Homo sapiens: one gene and its partners. The protein of the gene in region 3 interacts with the protein of the main gene of each other region in a pairwise test. Each region holds a gene or a part of one and is shown on either strand. Other genes may lie near its edges. The genes, in order: HIBADH, IGSF21, PAEP and PCDHGA4.

Region 1 (4,133 bases), on a different chromosome or scaffold from region 3:
AAACCTTGATTTCTGAGTGTCTCTTCGATTTTTCCACCTTCCACAATACCTGTTTGTTTTGTTCCACAGATTTGAAGAAAAAAAATTTCCCTGTGTAATCTTATCTGTGGAAATCTTTAAGACATAAATTTTTTTTAAAAAATTCTTAAATGAAAACAAGGAGAAATAAAACTGCAAAACAGGAAATACAGTTGCAAATATTACTTCATCCAATAAATATTTGAAGTGTGCTGACAATGTGCCAGAAGCTGGGATAAAATGATGAGCAAAACAGCCACAGCCCACCCAAACTCACATTGTGTTAAGGAGAAAGACAATTAAATAAGCATGGTATAATTGGATAGGAGGAGTACTATCATGGGATCCAAGGAAGCAGGGTCTGGGGTGCTGGGAAAGGTGAAGAAAAAGAAGACAGTGAAGCACAGACCTGGAGCCAGGTGAAAACATGGGGGTGGCAGGGAGGTGGTGGGCAAGGAAGAATGATCCATCCTGGCAGACAATGTGACAGCAAATGTGAAGCAAATGTGAAGGTTTCCAAGAGACAGAACAAGAGGGAGAAGTGAGTTCAGCACGATGAAAGCAAGGAGAGGGGGATGGGAAAGAAAATCAGTCTGGTTGAGGCAAGCAAAAGCCAAGGCATCTGGGGGCTTGTCAGACAAGTTGCAGGGATGGACTTTAATCTCCAAGTAACTGAAACTACAAAAGCTTCAAAGGAGAAGTGACACAATCAGGATTTTACATTTTAGAAAGCTCACTCTTGCTTTGATATGGAAAATAAACTGGAGAAGATCAGGCTGAAAGACAAGATCAGTTAAGATGTATTTGTGGTACAACACAAACGAGGCTCAGCCAAGGTACAGCTAGCTGGGGAGGAGGGAGCTGGATGAATTCAAGGCATATTCAAGAAGCAGAATGAACAAACGTCATGGGGAATGAGGGAGAGTAAGCCAAGTATGGGCACATCTTGTCTTAGTGTGCTTCACTTTATCATGCTTCACAGATAATGCATGTTTGTTTTTGTATTTTAATAATTGAAGGTTTGTGGCAATCCTGCATTGAGCAAGTCTATCAGCACTGTTTTTCCAACAGCATGTGCCCAGTTCATGCAGCTGTCACATTTTGGTAATTCTCACAATATTTCAAACTTTTTCATTACTATTATTTCTGTTACGGTGATCTGCAATCAATCAGTAACTTTTTTTTTTTTGAGACGGAGTTTCTCTCTTGTTGCCCAGGCTGGAGTGTAGTGGCGCAATCTTGGCTCACAGCAACCTCTGCCTCCTGGGTTCAAGTGATTCTCCTCCCGCAGCCTCCTGAGCAGCTGGGATTACAGGCATTTGCCACCACCACACCCAGCGTTTTTTTTTTTTTTTTTTTTTTTTAGTAGAGACAGGGTTTCACCATGTTGGCCAGGCTGGTTTCAAACTCCTAACTTCAGGTGATACACCTGCCTCGGCCTCCCAAAGTGCTGGGATTACAGGCATGAGCCACTGTGCCCAGCCGATCAGTGATCTTTGATGTTACTATTGAAACTGTTTTGGGGTGTCAGAAAGCGCACATAAGATGGCAAACATAATCGATAAATGTGGTACACATGTGTTCTGACTGCCCAGCCACTGAATGGCAGCTCTCTCTCTCTTACCCCTCAGGCCTCCCTATTCCCTGAGACACAAAATATTGAAATTAGGCCAATTAATAACCCTACAATGGCCTCTTAAGTGTTCAAATGAAAAGAGGAGTCAGCTGTCTCACACTTTAAATCAAAAGCTAGAAATGATTAAGCTTAGTGAGGAAGGCATGTAGAAAATCAAGACAGGCTGAAAGGCAGGCCCATTAAAACAAACAGTAGAATGCAAAGAAAAAATTCTTGAAGAAAATTACAAATGCTATTCCAGTGAACACATGAATGATAAGTGAAACGGCCTTACTGCTGATAGGGAGTAAGTTTGAGTGGTCTGGATAGATCAAACCAGCCAAAACATTCCCTTAAACCAAAGCTTAACCCAGAACAAGGCCCTAACTTTCTTCAATTCTGTGAAGGCTGAGAGAGGTGAGGAAGCTGCAGAAGACGTGTGAAGCTAGTAGTGATTAGTTCATGAGGTTTAAGCAAAGAAGCCATCTCCATAACATAAAAGTGGAAGGTGAAGCAGCAACTGCTGATGGAGAAACTGCAGGAAGTTAGTTATCCAGAAGATCCAGCTATCACTGATGAGGGTAGCCACACTAAACAACAGATTTTCAGTGTAGATGAAACAGCCTGCTGTTGGAAGATATCATCTAGGACTTTCGCAGCTAAAGAGAAGTCAATGTCTGTTTCCAAAGCATCAAAGGACAGGCTAACCCTCTTGTTAAGGGCCAGTGCAGCTGGGGACTTGAAGTTGAAGCCAATGCTCATTTACCATTCCAAAAATCCTAGGGCCCTTAAGAATTATGCTGAATCTACTCTGCCTGTGCTCTCCAAATGGAACAGCAAAGTCTAGAAGAAAGCACATCTGTTTATGGGATGGTTTACTGAATATTTATTTTAAGCCCACTGTTGAGACCTACTGGTCAGAAGAAAAGATTCCTTTCAAAATACGACTGCTCACTGACAGTACACGTGGTCACCCAAGAGTGCTGATGGAGATGTACAGGGAGATTAATGTTGTTTTCATGTCTATGAACACAACATCCATTCTGTAGCCCATGGATCAAAGAGTCATTTTTCAACTCTTATGTGAGAAGTATTTCATAAGGCAATAGCTACCATATATAGTGATTCCTCTGACAGCTCTGGGCAGAGTAAACTGAAACCTTATGAAAATAATTCACCATTCTAGATGCCATTAAGAATATTTGTGATTCATGGGAGGAGGTCAAAATATCAACATTAACAGGAGTTTGAAAGAAGCTGATTCCAATGCTCATGGATAACTTTGAGGCCTTTAAGACTTCAATGGAGAAAGTCACTGCAGACGTGGTGGAAATAGGAGAACTAGAATTAGAAGTGGAGCCTGCAGATGTGACTGAATTACTACAATCTTGTGCTAAACTTGAAGGGATGAGGAGTTGCTTCTTATGGATGAGCAAAGAAAGTGGTTTCTTGAGATGGATCTACTCCTGGTGAAATGACAGAAAGGATTTAGAATATTACACAAACTTAGTTGATAAAGTAGCATCAGGGTTTGAGAGGATTGCCTCCGTTTTTGAAAGAAGTTCTACTGTGGGTAAAATGCTATCAAACAGTAGCACATAAATCTTCTGTGAAAGGATGAGTAAATCAATGCAGTAAACTTAAACTTCATTACTGTCCTATTTTAAGAAATTGTCATAGCCACCCAACCTTCAGCAACCGCCACCCTGGTCAATCACCATTCATCAACCTCAAGGCAAGACCTTCCACCAGCAAAAAAGGACTATATGACTCACTGAAGGCTCAGATAATTGTTAGCTTTTTTAGCAATAGAGCATTTTAAAATTAAGATACGTATATTGTTTAGACATAATGCTAATGCACACTTAATAGACTATGGCATAGTATAAACGTAATTTTTATATGTACTGGGAAACCAAAAAATTTGTGTGACTTGTTGTGGTTGTCTGGAACTGAACCCACAATATCTCCAAGGTATGCTTGTGTGGTATCTAGGTATATGTATTCTTTTTCTTTTTTTTTTTCTATTTGAGACGAAGTCTCACTCTGTTGCCCAGGCTGGAGTGCAATGGTGCTATCTCAGCTGACTGCCATCTCCACCTCCCGGGTTCAAGCGATTCTCCTGCCTCAGCCTCCTGAGTAGCTGGGCTTACAGACACGCACCACCACGCCCGACTAATTTTTTTTATTTTTAGTAGAAACTGGGTTTCACCATGTTAGCCAGGCTGGTCTCGAACTCCTGACCTCAGGTGATCTGCCCTCCTCGGCCTCCCAAAATGCTGGGATTAAAGGCATGAGCTATCGCGCCTGGCCGTATTCTTACTTTTTAATCAGGAAAAACAAACAAACAAACAAACAAACAAAAACCAACCCTCAACTGGGAGAAAATAAGCACTGCAGAAATCTGAAAGTTAGCTGGTCTAAAAATTATTTTCTGTAGTTGAGAACATAGACTTTCTAAAGTTGAGATCTCAAATAAGAGAAGGATGACAGTTTGCTT
Region 2 (4,569 bases), on a different chromosome or scaffold from region 3:
ATCCACCTGCTGACACGCGGCTGCGGAGACAGAGAACCCGAGAACCCGAGAACCCGCAGGGCCGCCCACCTCCGCCCGCGCAATCCCGGAGACCCCCGGCTGGGGCCGTGGGCTACCCCTAACTGGGGCTGCCCCCACCCTGCTCTCAGCGGAACGTTTCCCAGGGCTGAACAGCGGCTAAGGACCACTCCTCCATCCCCAGCCCGGCGCCACTGCACAGGCTCCAGTGCAGGACTTCCCAGAAGTGCCCAGGCACGGTTCACGGGGGCTGGAGGAGTTGAAAACGCCCCAGGACACGCCCAGGAGTCCCGAGAAATGTGGGTTTCTCCTTTGGAGGGTCTGATTCTGGGAAGTGGGGAGCCAGGGCAAGGACTTCCGGCCCAGCCAGTGCGAGGGGCAGCGGCCTCCTTCCTCCTGCCAGACCCGACTCTCTAGCGTCGGGCACCCTTGCTCTGCCACCCAAAGGGGCAGAACCGGCGAGGGCGTTCTGGCCGTGCCCCTCCCCGAGCAGTGACCGCCAGTACGTTCGTGAAGGCCGGCGCGGGTTGCTCCTCTCTGCGCCCTCGGAGGCAGGTGGCCCTGCAAAGCCGCTGCCAGGTGCACCTCTCTCGGCCACCTCCAGGAAGGGCGCCCTCCTCCGGCACAGCCCGCCTCTTGCGTCTCTCACGGACTCTTCTCGCACCCCGCCCCCCATTCTGGGCACAGACTTGGAAGGAGGAAGGAGGGACCCCACCCTCGTGTGCTCTCCTCTGCGGAGAAGAGAGGGCTCCCGGCTGCCTCGGATCTCCCTCTGCGCCCCAGACGCGGAAAGTTTCCCATTCGCGATCCGCGTCTGCGCTCTTCCTTCATCCTGAGCAGCGGAGCTCCGAGGCCGCGCTGGCTGCACCGGCCCAGATGCGCTCACCCTCAGGCACGCCAACCCCCGCCTCCCGCAGCCCGCAGAGGCGGGCAAAGGGATTTGAGGCGTCAGGATGCCGGGTCAGCTCTCTGCAGCCGGGCAGCCAGAAGAACCCTGCTCCCGGGTTCCAGGGAGAGCTCGCAGGGTGGGGTCCTGACGGAGCCAGGGTTTCCCAACAAGCCCTTCTCATCAGTCCTCTCCTTCACCCTGCCGCGTCTCTCTGTTCTGCGCATTCCCAGGGAAAGGGGTGCTTACCTTAGGTCCCCAGCCTCCAACCCCCGCCCCCTGCAATGTCCAGGTGAGGGCTCCAGTGCCTTTCAACAAACCCCAGTGCCCTCTCGGCGGCGCTGGAACGAGGACCTCCCCCATGTAACCTTTCCCTCTAGAGCCCTCCTCCCAAAGTTGAGGGGGGACATTTTGATCCACTTAGGAAAGTCTCTTGTTCCAAGGGTAGGGGAACAAAGTACAGGGTTTGCATTCCTTCTGGGTTACACCAACCCCTCCCCCCTCGCTGTCAGGACCACCTTCCGGGCTCAAATTCTGCAGCTTCTCCCATCAGCAGACCCAGCACTCCCCAAGGACTTCGGGGTAGAAGGAGTTGGGGTTATTTTTAAGGGGGCACCCCTTCCTGGCAGGCACTCTCAGAGCCTAGGTAGGCACCTCCTGCTGGGACAAGGCTATGGCATAGGACAGAGGTGATGCCCACCTCTATCATCCAGTGGGGCTCGGGGTCGAGACCTTATTGATCATAAAGACGACTTTTTGGCACCTCGCGTCCCGCTCCCCTCCGAGGCGGAGCCAGGCTCTGACTCCAGCCAGGCTGAGGTTGGCACCAGGCTCCGAGGAGGATCCCGGACGCGGAGCCTGTAGTCTCGGTGCCTGCGGCTCTTCGCTGGTCCCGCCTCCCTCCCTCCTGGCTTTTAGCCTCACGTTGGCTCTCTGCTCACTGCGCGAAAGGGTTCAGCTCCATTTAAGACCCACTACGCGGCGGCACTGGGTGGGAGGCCGGCCGCGGACCCTGGGGCTGCGGAGCCACCTCTCACTGGCTCCGGAGAACCCGCTCGGCTTCAACCTCCTTCTAGCTGTCTTAGCCTAACCCGGGAGCAAGTCCACACGGCGGGACACACACACACACACACACACACACACACTGAGCTGCTCACAACTCCCCAGCCCCGGAAGCGTCCATACCTCCCTGCACACGATAACCACACGCTCCATGGCACGCATACACACACTCCCAGCCCCATGAAGCCCACGACTCCCAGGCACCTGCACCCCCACCCATCCCACATAAGCAGACTCTTGTCCAGTGTCACAGTCCCATCTCCTGTGCACACAGAAATAGTAATCCGCTGTCGTACACCCCTAGAGACCTGCACACTCGGGACACACGTGAAACGCCAAACCTCACATACCCACCCCCTAACACCTCACACCCACAGTGACACAAGCTCACACACTTCACACCCTCACAGGGAAGGTGGCACATGTTCACACCCTCCCCCCAACATTCGCTCACACTCTCACACACACACCTTCTCCATGTAACTGACACAGACACTCTAACACCCATCCAGACCCTCGCTCACTCACACGCAGACCCCACACCATCACACACACACGCACACACACACTTGCATCTCTAAATACACTCCCGCACCTTCTGCCCACACAGCTCCTTCCCGGACACCCTCACCCAGACACACAACAAAGACACACAATTTACACACACACACACACCCTGGCACAAATCCATGAGCGCTCTCCAAGAGGCGTCCTCCCTCCCTCATCGAGCCAACCAGCTCCACAGACCCCGGGCAGGACCGGTGCTCGTAGCCCGAGCCTCTCGGAGCGACCCCGGCCAGCGCCCTCCCCCGGCACCCCGTCCCCGCGCACGTTCACCGCTCGGCTCCCGCCAGGCGCCCGCGCACTCACCGCGCGCCAGGTCCAGGATCGCGGCGAGCAGCAGGCAGACGCAGCGGCGGAGGCTCGGGGCGGTTCGCATGGTGCCCGGGAGCTGGCGGCGGTGGCGGGGCGGCGGGGGTGGAGGCGGTGGCGGCGGGTCCCCTCGCCATGGGCTCAGACGCGCTCCTGCCTCCGGCCACTGGCCGAGGCGGTGGCGGGCAGCGCGGAGAGCCGCGGGGGCGCCCCCATGCCGCCGCGGCCAGGCAGCCCGGGCGCCCGGCTCGACTCGGCTCCGGCTCTGCGAGGCGCAGCGACCCTCGCGCTCTGGGCGTCCTCGGGGCTCGCCGCGGTTCTCGGCTCCCTAGCTGCGCGCGGTGCCCACCGCGGCCCAGAGTCCGATCGGCTGCAGCGCCGGAGTTTGGAGCCGAATCGCGCTCTCTGCCTCGCGCTCGCCTCTCCCGGCGGCGCGAGCACCCCCCTCCTCTCGCCCTCCCTCCGTCCCTCCCCCTCTCCCCGCCCCCCCGCCCTCCTTGCCCTCCCCTCGCCGCGCTCTCCGCGTATTATACAGACTTTTCTTTAATCCTTTCTGGGCTGTTCGGCTCTCGTCCGCTAAGCCGATTTATTGCAGGGAGAAGGAGAGCTCACCCCCTCCTAACCTCCCCTCTCCCCTCACTCAGGTCCCCCCTCACTCAAAACTGGCTTGCTGCCTCCAGCTTCTTAACCCTTACCCAGGTGACCCAACACCCCGCCCTGGAAGCTATGCTCCATCGGATCCGCCTTTACCTAGCCCCTCCTATCCCCGGGATTACCATCGCCCTCCCCGCTACTCAGCCTGATGAAAGGAGGCAGCCTCCCTCCCGAGAGGGAAAGATGCCATCCTGGGAGCAGGGCAGGCAGGGTGTGGCTCTGGAGTTCTGACCTTGCCAACGATGAATGCCCTCATTGGGCAAGATTAAGGGGTTTCCATGTTCTGAAACTTCCCCAATTACGGCTGCTCCTTCCCCCAGGGACCCACGGAAATGGGGTGTGTTCTGTCTTTTTCCCATGTGCTAGGATCCAGCCAGGAAGGGTGAGGAACTGATTGTTTCCTCCTGGCAGAGACCAAGTTTCCACCTTTTTGCCAGACCTGACAGCTTTTCTTCCCAGGTCCGAGAAGAACAGGTTTGGGACTTGTATGTTACCATTACTCTCCCACCAACACACACGCGAGCACACACACACACACACACACACACACACACACACCATTGAGCCTCAGCCCTGGCGGTGGACTTTGAGGCCTCCTGCGAGGATGAAGGGGAGGGGTACTCTAGCCCTTGGAGTGGACTGGGGATGTGGTTAGATGAGGAAGTTCAGGAGATAGAATTTCACCATTGGTAGGGACCCAGAAGATTGGCAAAGCCCAGAAAAACCAGCACGACCAGGGGCAAAACCTGCTCAGAACTCAGGTGGGTCCCTTTACCCAGGCCTTCTATGGAGAATCTCCAGCTTCCCTAGCTCTGGCAGGTTGCTGAGTCAGGCTGTTGCATCGTTTACCTACATGGGCAATGGGTCTATAGCCAGTTCCATCTCCAGCAGCCCTCTGAGAGGAGTGTAGGGAGTGGGGTGGGCAATGGGTGGTTGCTGGGCTGCCTCTGGGTGAGCTTTGTGCAGAGATGTCCATGAAAGTGAACTGCTCCCTCCTCCTGCCCTCTGGAACCTCACCCCATCGCCTCCCAAGGCAGCTCTGCGGCTCAGCTTGCTCACCCACCCCAGAAGGAGCG
Region 3 (4,725 bases):
CAACATGGTGAAACCCCGTCTCTACCAAAAAATACAAAAATTAGCTGGGCATGGTGGCGTGCGCCTGTAATCCCAGCTACTCTGGAGGCTGAGGCACGAGAATCGCTTGAATCTGGGAGGCAGAAGTTGCAGTGAGCCGAGATCACGTCACTACACTCCAGCCTGAGTGACAGAATGAGACCCTTTCTCAAAAAAACAAAGCAAACAACAAACAAATAAAAAAAACCAAGAAAAAAAAAGTCAGCCCACAGGCACCGAGGTGGACAGGAAGCCAGTTGTCAGCTCCCCAGGGTTCCCAGCCACGGACGTAGCTGCTGCCTCTCACCCACGTTGAGCTCATGTGCTGTGAGACCCACCCAGGTACTGGCACATCATGCTCTGGATGGGGGTGGTGGTGTCCTGTAGGCAGAGAAACAGGAAATTGTCGTAGTCAGTATCGAGCAGCGTGGCCTCGTTCGCCACCGTATCTGGGGAAAGAAGAGAAGAACCAAAAGGAAGATGAAGCCTCCGTCTCAGCAGAGTCCTGTGCAGGTGTGTGGACATCCCACCACACTAAGTGGCTTCCTCATCCACTGACACCATGGGACGTGGCCCCTGCTGTGGACCATGATCAGGGAAGCCAGGGAGGAAAGGGGAGGAGAGGCAATGTGGAGGGCCATGGAGCCCCGGCTGAGGGGGAGAGGCCAGGTGTGCCGTGGAGAGGCAGACACGGCAGGCAGGGAGGCTGTGACCTGGAGAGACTCCAACTGAGAAGTCACGTACGGGTGAGGATGGCGGGAGATGGCACAGGAACAGGGCACAGGGGCGGGAAGAGGGAGAAGAAATGGACCTTGGAGAGTGGCTCGATTCTGGGGAGGGCAAGCAGGGTCAGAAAGGCCTGAGGCAAGTCCCAAGCATGAGAAGCAAACTGTATTTGCTGGGAAAATGTGCCCATGAGGGGATAAGAGGCCCCAGACCCTGACCACCTCTGTCTTTTTAAAAAAATAATAATTAACAAAATAGAACAAAATGTTGCAAATTGTTAGGAAGAATTCAGTGGACCAAGGACATGCTGTAAGCCCCTCTCTCTTCCCCCAGAGAGGCCTGGGAGCTCAGCCTAAGACCAGAGCTGCAGCCCCAGAGTGCGCAGGAGGCAGCCAGGCCCACGGGAACAGCAGCCACTTGCCCACCTGCCCACCTGCCCACCTGCCCACCTGCCCACCTGTTCACCTACCCACCTGCCCACCTACCAACTTGTTCACCTGGCCACCTGTTCACCCACCCACCTGTTCACCTACTCACCTGCCCACCTGTCCACCTACCCACCTGTCCACCTGTATACCTACCCACCTACCCACCTGCCCACCTGTTCACCTAACCACCTGCTCACCTGCCCACCTGTTCACCTAACCACTTACTCACCTAGCCACCTGCCCACCTACCCACCTGTTCACCTACCCTCCTGCCCACCTGTATACATATCCACCTACCCACCTACCCACCTGCCCACCTGCCCACCTGCTCGCCTGCAGCCTCCCTGGCCTTTTGTGAGGCCAGAGTGAACAGTGCAACAAAGCACCTGTCCCCTGTGCCTGGGCACAGTGCAGACCCACATCCAGTCATGTCATGCCAAGAATTAGTGCTTCCCCTGCCCTCCAGGTAAAAGATGCCTCTGGGGTCAGCATCAGGTTGACCGGAGTAAACACTCTGACTCCCTGAAGCAGAGAGAGTGGGGACAGGCCAGGCCCCACTCCCTCATGCCCCAGCAGAGCCGCCTCTGGGAGAGCGTGGCTAGCATGCCAGCACTGAGCCAGCCCTTGGGGCCTGGGGACACTCACAGTTGATCTTGAACTTCTTTGGATTCTCAGTCTTCTCTCCAAGGACCTTCTTCTCAACACAGCTGTTGTTCTCCCTGAAAGGTGGTGACAATAGGATGAGTGGCCACTTGAATTGGAGTTGCCTTCACTGTCACTCCTAAAATCAGGTCACCACGGGAACTTCCCCGGGTCCAAGGAGCACCGCAGCCCGCAGCCGCCCAGACCTTCTCCTCAGTCTGACCTGGGGCTGCACTGTGTGGTTGGCTGTTGGCCCAGAGCCTGGGGCAGGGGATCCAAGGGGACAGGGAACGTCTGGAGCCCTGGTTTTCCACCCCACCCTCATGGAAGGGCCACAGTGAAGCCCCTGGCTGTCAGAAAATGCCTGGGGCTAAGTCCAGCTCCGCCCAACCCACCCAGTCCTGGACCCCTGAGGGGGGAGACTGAGCCCCCGCCCAGCCCGTCTCAATGATGAGAAACCCACCATCTGTGCAGAACGATCTCCAGGTTGTCCTCGGGGGTGGGCAACAGTGAGGTGATGTGGACCCTCAGAGGGGCCTTCAGTGTCGCCATGAGGGAGATGTTGTTGGTCGCCATGGCCATGGAGTGCCAGGTCCCTGCCAACTGAGGGGGCCTTGGGCTGCACGGCGGTCCCACCCCACCATGGCTCTCGTTGCACCCGGTGCAGACGGGGCTGAGTCTAACTGGGATGGGTACAGTGAGCATTGGATGGTTGTCTGCTATCTACCAGATCCTGGGCTATGAAATTTCCTGTACTTAAAATGACCAGTGTGTGCTAACTCAGGAGTGTTCCAAAGTCCAAATAATGAGTCACCTAGGATGCTGGGAAACCAGAGAGGCCACCCTAAAGATGGAGAGCAGGGCTGAGGGCTTCCTGACGTCATGGCGTCCATTCTGTGCTTCCTGTAGGTTTCTGAGATCCTGGGCTTCCTGCCTGCCCGCAGCTCCCACCCGCCCCAGGCCTCCCACAGTAAAGTGCCCGCTCCCCCAGCCTCAAACCTTTGGGAGCTCCAGGTCCTGCTTGGTCTGGGGGATGTCCATGGCCGGGACACCACAGACCAGGGCCACGCCCAGGGTGAGCAGGAGGCACAGCATGGCTGCGGCTGTGGGTGGCTCTGAGCTCTGGAGCCAGAGGGATGCTGAGGCAGTGTGGGCTCAGGGGGCCTTATGTAGGAGGAGGGCAGACAAGATCCCCGCCCACAGCCTCGCCATGTGATTCCTCGAACCTGTGACTCATCCTTGGCCCCTGGGCAGCTTCCTCCACTGGGGCAATGGGAGGCTCTTCCCTGCGTCCACGCGGGAACCTCCTCTGTGTCCGGGCTGGGCAGTTCTTGGCAGGGCCTCAGGCGGGAGGGGCCTGGGTCGGGTCCAGGCTGGCAGCGGCGGGAGCACCTTCTGGGTTGGGGCTCCTGGACAATGTTGGGTCAGAGGCCAGCACTGAGGACAGCTGTGTCCAGGGCAGGGGTATGGCCTGTGGGGCAGGCAGAGGGCCTGAGAGCCCCATGGCTGCCCCAGGATGCCACAGACATCATGCCAGTGGGTGACTGACTGCACGGTCATAATCCTGACCTGTACCTTCCACTCAGACATCCCCAGGTGTGCACACCTGTGTCCCTCAAACAGCCAGCCTCTGGACAGGTGCACACTGCCTGTTAGCACTGTTTCTCTCTGACTCACAGGCAAGACTGGGTGGAAATGGGAGGCAGTGGACTTTCAGACTTTGTCCTACAGTCTATATTGGATGTACTTTTTCCCACAGGGAAGCATCACTTTGTAACTTACAATCGAGCCCGCATCTCACTCCCTGGAGAGCACTTGAGTCCTGAGGCAAGACACGGGTGTCCACTCCCACTCCCCCATCCATCAGAGCAGGTCATTCCGGCCAGAGCAGCTAGGCAAGAAATGGTAACTAAAGGCAGGCAGATTGGGAAGGGGGAGGTATACCTGTCTCTATTCGCATATAACATCATTGCCCAGGTACAAAATTGCAAGAACTCTACAAAACCCCTCCTAGAACCGAGTGAGGTCAGCAAGGTCAATCGCACAAAAATCCACCGTGTTCCCACACAGTGTCAAGGAGTAGACAGAACCCGAAACTGGAAATTCAGGATTTGTAATCACACACACAGCATGTAGGCAAAAATCTCACCAAATATGGACAGGACTTAAACTCTGAACCCAAGGAAGGGAAATCAAAGACCTAAGGTAAAGGACAGGCACAATGTGTTCATGGGCTGGAAGCTTCAACACAGCAAAGGTGTTAGCTCTCCTCAACTCAACCTAGAGATTTAATGCAATTCCTATCAAATTCTCAGCAAGATATTTTGTAGGTAGCTATAGACATGTGTGTGACACACACACACACATATATACATATATACATTTTTTTGAGGCCAAGTCTTGCTCTGTTGCCCAGGGTGGAGTGCAGTGGTACGATCTTGACTCACTGCAACCTCTGCATCCCAGGTTCAAGTAATCCTGCTGCTTCAGCCTCCAGAGTAGCTGGGATTATAGGCGCCCACCACCACACCTGGCTAATGTTTGTATTTTTAGTAGAGAGGGGTTTTCACTATTTTGGCCAAGCTGGTCTCGAACTGCTGACCTCAAGTGATCTGCTCACCTCGGCCTCCCAAAGTGCTGGAATTATAGGTGTGAGCCACCACACCCCACCATATGTAGATATATAGAGAAATTTTTTTTTCTAAAATTTACATGTCAAGGCAAAGGAGCTACAATTGCTAAAGCCATTTTGAAGAAGAATAAAGTATAAAGAGTTAGTCTACCCAAGTTTACAAGCACTATTATCAATAGTCACCAAGAGATTGTGGTATTGGCAGAGAAATGGACACATAGATCAATGGGAAATAGAGAGTCCAAACATGGACTCACACACAACAACAACAGACCTTTA
Region 4 (4,609 bases), on a different chromosome or scaffold from region 3:
TTTTACTTTATTTTATTTTACTTTTTGGAGACAGAGGCTTGCTCTGTTGCCCAGGCTGGAGTACAGTGTCATGATCTCAGCTCATTGCAACCTCTGCCTCCCAGGTTCAAGCAATTCTCATGCCTCAGCCTCCAGGGTAGCTGGGACTACGGGCACACACCACCACGCCTAGCTAACTTTTTGTATTTTAGTAGAGACTGGGTTTCACCATGTTGCCCAGACTGGTCTCGAACTCCTGAGCTCAGGCAATCCGTCCTCCTCACACTCCCAAAGTGTTAGGATTACAGGTGTGAGCCACCACACCCAGCACAGAAAAGGAAATTTAAGGAAATGAGGTGGCTCAGAGTTGTAAAATTAGAAAATTCTGGCTGAAACTACAACTGAATGAAGACCAAAAAGGATAAGTAATAAACAACATTTTTGTGTGGTAAATACTGTTGATCATTATTGGAAGGTCATCCACCAGTTTTCTTTAAAGCAATAAAATATTAAAAGAGGCAACTTTATTTGATATATTACATATAAAATGAGAGACATTTACACAACTCTTTGTCTATATTTCAGTGTGGTATGATCTATTATAAGATTGACTCACCTGAAGATTAGGGTCTCCTTTTGTTTCAAGTAAATCCTGAGTTATCAGAAGAGGCTCGCTTTTCTCACAACTCTCCCGGCTGATGAGCGTGTCTGCATAGCTGGGTTGGGAGAAGATCAGGTGACTCTTCCGCGAGTCCGCGGTGAGGGAGACCTCGTGGGAATAGGTCTGCAGGAAAGCCCGAACCCCGTCCACGCCCACAAAGTGCGAGGCAGGCACACCTGCCAACCTGCTGCCTTCAGCGTGAAGCAGGCGTGACTTGTGCCAGCGTCTCAGCTTGAGTGCTAGCAGCACCGTGACAAAAGCCAGGAAGACGCAGGAGACAGCGGCCACTGCCACCACGAGATAGAGTGTGAGGCCCGAGTCGTCTGGGTCTGCTGAAGGCTTGAGGCTGCCCAAGTCAGCCAGGACATCTGGGATGCTGTCGGCCACAGCCACAGTGAGTGTGACGGTGGCCGAGAGAGGGGGCTGGCCATGGTCCTGGACGACCACTACAAGCCTCTGCTTGAGCGCGTCTCTGTCCAGCAGGGCCCGTGCGGTGCGCACCTCGCCTGTGTGCAGCCCCACTGCAAATAGTCCCGGCTCGCTGGACTTGAGTAGGCTGTAGGACAGCCAGGCATTCTGACCTGAGTCTCTGTCCACTGCCACCACTTTGGTCACCAGGTAGCCGGAATCTGCGGAGCGGGGTGCCAGCTCCACACCAGTGGAGCCATCAGTAGGGAAGGTGGGGTACAGGATCTCAGGGACATTGTCGTTCTGGTCCAGCACAAAGAGGCTCAGTGACACATTGCTGCTGAGTGGAGGGTCTCCACTGTCACTGGCTGTCATCAGCAGCTGCAGGTCTCTAAACTGCTCATAGTCGAAGGAGCAAAGAGCATATAGGATCCCTGTATTGGAGTTGATGGAGACATAGGAGGACAGAGGTGCACCCTGGAAGGTGTCTTCGGCCAGGGAGTAAGTGATTCGGGCATTGTCACCACTGTCAGGGTCTTGAGCAGTCATAGATAAGATGGAGGCTCCTCTGGGGTTGTTTTCAGGAATGTAAGCAGAGTAGGAAGCATGAGGGAAAGTGGGTGGGTTGTCATTGATGTCCATCACTTGCAGTGAAATATGAGTTTCTGTAGACAGTGGAGGAGTTCCCTGGTCAGTGGCAGTTACAGTGATGTTATATTCTGAGACTTCTTCCCTGTCCAGTGTTCTGTGTGTCAACAACCGATAATAATTTCCATAGGTCTTTTCAAGTGTGAATGGCAGATTATCTGGAATAGAACATGTGACTAGGCCATTTCCTCCTGAGTCACTGTCATGCACGTTGAAAAGTGCAATTACTGTACCCGGGGAAGAAGATTCCTGGACTGAGCTGGTGAGAGATGTAACTGTGACTTCTGGTGCGTTGTCATTTTCATCCAGAACTGTCACCAGTACCTTGCTTCTAGCTCGGAGACCAGGCCCATCATGGGCTTCTACATCTATGTCATAGAATCCAGAGTCCTCATAATCTAGACCCCCCAATATTGTTATATCCCCACTCAGAGAATTCAACTGAAATAGCTGTGATATTTTGTCTCTTACTTTCCGGAAAGAATACGTCACGTCTCCATTGGCTCCTTCATCTGGATCAGTGGCTTTTACGGTGAGTAGCCGAGTGCCTACAGGAACGTTCTCACGAACACTTACGTGGTACTCGGGCTGAGTGAACACGGGAGCATTATCGTTGGTATCCACAAGTATTATGAGAATCCTGGCAGTGCCAGAGCGAACCGGGTCACCTCCATCGAAGGCCGTGAGAACGAGGTGGTGAACCGCCTCTTCCTCGCGATCTAGAGCGCGTTCCAGCACCAGCTCTGGGTACTTAATCCCATCGGCCCCACTTTGCACGTCCAGGGAAAAGTAACCGTTTGAGTTGAGCTGGTAACCCTGCAGGGAGTTTACACCTACATCCGGATCAAAAGCTTCAGGAAGAGGAAATCTTGCCCCAGGATTTTCATTTTCAGCAACTTTTATTTCCCTCTGTTCTGTCCCAAAACTGGGTGGGTTATCATTAACATCGATTATTTCCACCTCTACCCGCAAAATCTTCACTGTATCTTCTAGAAGAATCTCCAGGTTTGTCACACAGTTTGGAGATCTGTCGCAGAGCTCCTCCCTGTCTATCCTACCCGCGGTGACCAAGGTGCCGCTGCGCGGGTTCAGGGCGAAAAGCTGCGTCCTACCTCTGGAGACGATGCGGACTCCGCGCTCCGCCAGCTCCCGGGGCGCCAACCCCAGGTCCTTGGCGATGTTGCCCACCACTGAGCCTTCTTCCTGCTCCTCAAACACCGAGTAGAGAATCTGTTCGGCCCTGATTTCCACCAGAACCCCCAGGAGAAGGCAGATCTGGAGCAGCCGGGTGTGGTCTGGGCGAGCAGGAGGCGCCGCCATTACAACCCCGCCGCGGAGTCGCCTGTGCTTCGGTTTTCCCTCTGTCGAGGCCTGAGGAGCCCCAGGATCTTCTGGGTCCAAAATAAAGTGCATTCACAGCCAGAGCTCTCAGGGCTTCCGCTTGAAGCTTTCATAAAGCTCCAGAGCCAGTGCTTTGTGCTGCAGAAATCTTGTGATTCTGATTAAATTTCTGGTTTGTCTTTTCCCCCTGATTGGTGAACAGCGACACCCAGAGTCTTAACCTGTTACTGCAATTTATTCTTGGTTAAAAAAAGTTTATTTTTTATACACTTTTCTATTCCTATTTCTCCCAAGATAATAAAGTCAAATTCCTGTTTTTGATTTGCAATGAAAATTCAAGAATGATCCAAGTCTTCCTGTACAATAAACTTTATGAAGTTATTTATTTTCTTAGAGAAAATATGACGATTTTTTTCCTAAGATGTGTTCTTCCTCTTTTCAGTTTTCACATTGTTCATCCCCACAGCCCATTCTCAGTATAGCGTATTGTGTGAGGGACATAATTATCTCTCCTAAAGACAAAGGTGGACTTGAAAAATGGATGAGACAGATAAGTGAAAAGACAGTGGGACAGGAACTTGGAGGTCTGGCTTTAGTCCCAATTTATGCAGTAACAAGTTTCCTCACAGGAGTTGACCCTCTAGAACCTGGGGCAATGCTTCAATTCCCTTGCAAAAAACTCACCTACTGTTCAAGAGTTAGCCTTACCCTGTACAAATGAGATTGACAAATAGGATAATAGGTTTGGGAAGAGAATTTGCTCCTTAATTTTGTGTACAGTAGATTCTTGGCCACAAGCTATGCATATGACTATCTTGTTCACAATGTGTTCTCAATCTTTAGAACAATACCTTTCATAGAGTAGTAATTTTTATGAAACCTTTCAATGTTTCATGAATGACCAGTTCAAATGCAAAGCCTAAAACAATGGGTAAATAACTCTGATCTTAAAAATAAAAAAGAAATAAAAAGAAAAGTTAGACTGAATAACTATAAAGTGCAGATAATAGTTTAGTGATTTTTTCACATGACACATTCAGTATTATTTTACAATTTCTAACTTTACTTTAGCTCTCATTTTAGAAATAGCCAGTAAAAGGAAATGTTTTGGTAGCCGAACATGGATTATCATTGCATGTGCCATCGCTTTCTTTCTTATGAATACTTACAGTAATTTACTAATCTGTGAAAATTTGAGATAAAGCAGTACATCAGTTCTTAAGCTTATTCCTCACTTAACAATTAGCAGTAGAAATGACTCATACAAAAGGGCATTAGCTATACAGAATTTAAAAACCCTCAGACTTTGAGAGAGTAGATTAAACGTGTTTTTCACAATCCTCAAAGACCGCACAAACTGCGGATGATTGAGAGGTGAAATAAGATGTTTGGAAATAAATTTGACAGTATGCATTAAAAAAATCTCAACATGTTTATAGATTTAACTAATTCCTCAGAAATCTACACTAAAGAAACAAGAAGTATGGAAAACGCTTTATAAACCCAAATGTTCATTACATTCTTTGTTTTAATAGAGACAAAATAGAAAGAGCATAAAAACAAATAATTTAG

Evidence for each region.
Region 1: the proteins of PAEP (region 3) and HIBADH interact in binary tests that used the Homo sapiens proteins (3 or more experiments, as listed by UniProt).
Region 2: the proteins of PAEP (region 3) and IGSF21 interact in a two-hybrid assay, tested with the Homo sapiens proteins (one large-scale study listed by BioGRID and IntAct).
Region 4: the proteins of PAEP (region 3) and PCDHGA4 interact in binary tests that used the Homo sapiens proteins (3 or more experiments, as listed by UniProt).

What each region holds. Positions count from the first base shown.
Region 1 is NC_000007.14:27,526,561-27,530,693, forward strand, and holds part of HIBADH (3-hydroxyisobutyrate dehydrogenase, mitochondrial isoform 1 precursor), read right to left. Parts: intron 1-4,133.
Region 2 is NC_000001.11:18,106,466-18,111,034, reverse strand, and holds the start of IGSF21 (immunoglobulin superfamily member 21 precursor), read right to left. Parts: upstream 3,238-4,569; 5' UTR 2,907-3,237; coding exon 2,837-2,906; intron 1-2,836. UniProt on the Homo sapiens protein: Involved in synaptic inhibition in the brain. Selectively regulates inhibitory presynaptic differentiation through interacting with presynaptic NRXN2.
Region 3 is NC_000009.12:135,559,986-135,564,710, reverse strand, and holds the start of PAEP (glycodelin isoform 1 precursor), read right to left. Parts: upstream 2,956-4,725; 5' UTR 2,910-2,955; coding exon 2,814-2,909; intron 2,418-2,813; coding exon 2,278-2,417; intron 1,892-2,277; coding exon 1,818-1,891; intron 468-1,817; coding exon 357-467; intron 1-356. UniProt on the Homo sapiens protein: Glycoprotein that regulates critical steps during fertilization and also has immunomonomodulatory effects. Four glycoforms, namely glycodelin-S, -A, -F and -C have been identified in reproductive tissues that differ in glycosylation and biological activity.
Region 4 is NC_000005.10:141,353,608-141,358,216, reverse strand, and holds the start of PCDHGA4 (protocadherin gamma-A4 isoform 1 precursor), read right to left. Parts: upstream 3,197-4,609; 5' UTR 3,110-3,196; coding exon 596-3,109; coding exon of another isoform or gene 554-595; exon of another isoform or gene 484-553; intron 1-483. UniProt on the Homo sapiens protein: Potential calcium-dependent cell-adhesion protein. May be involved in the establishment and maintenance of specific neuronal connections in the brain.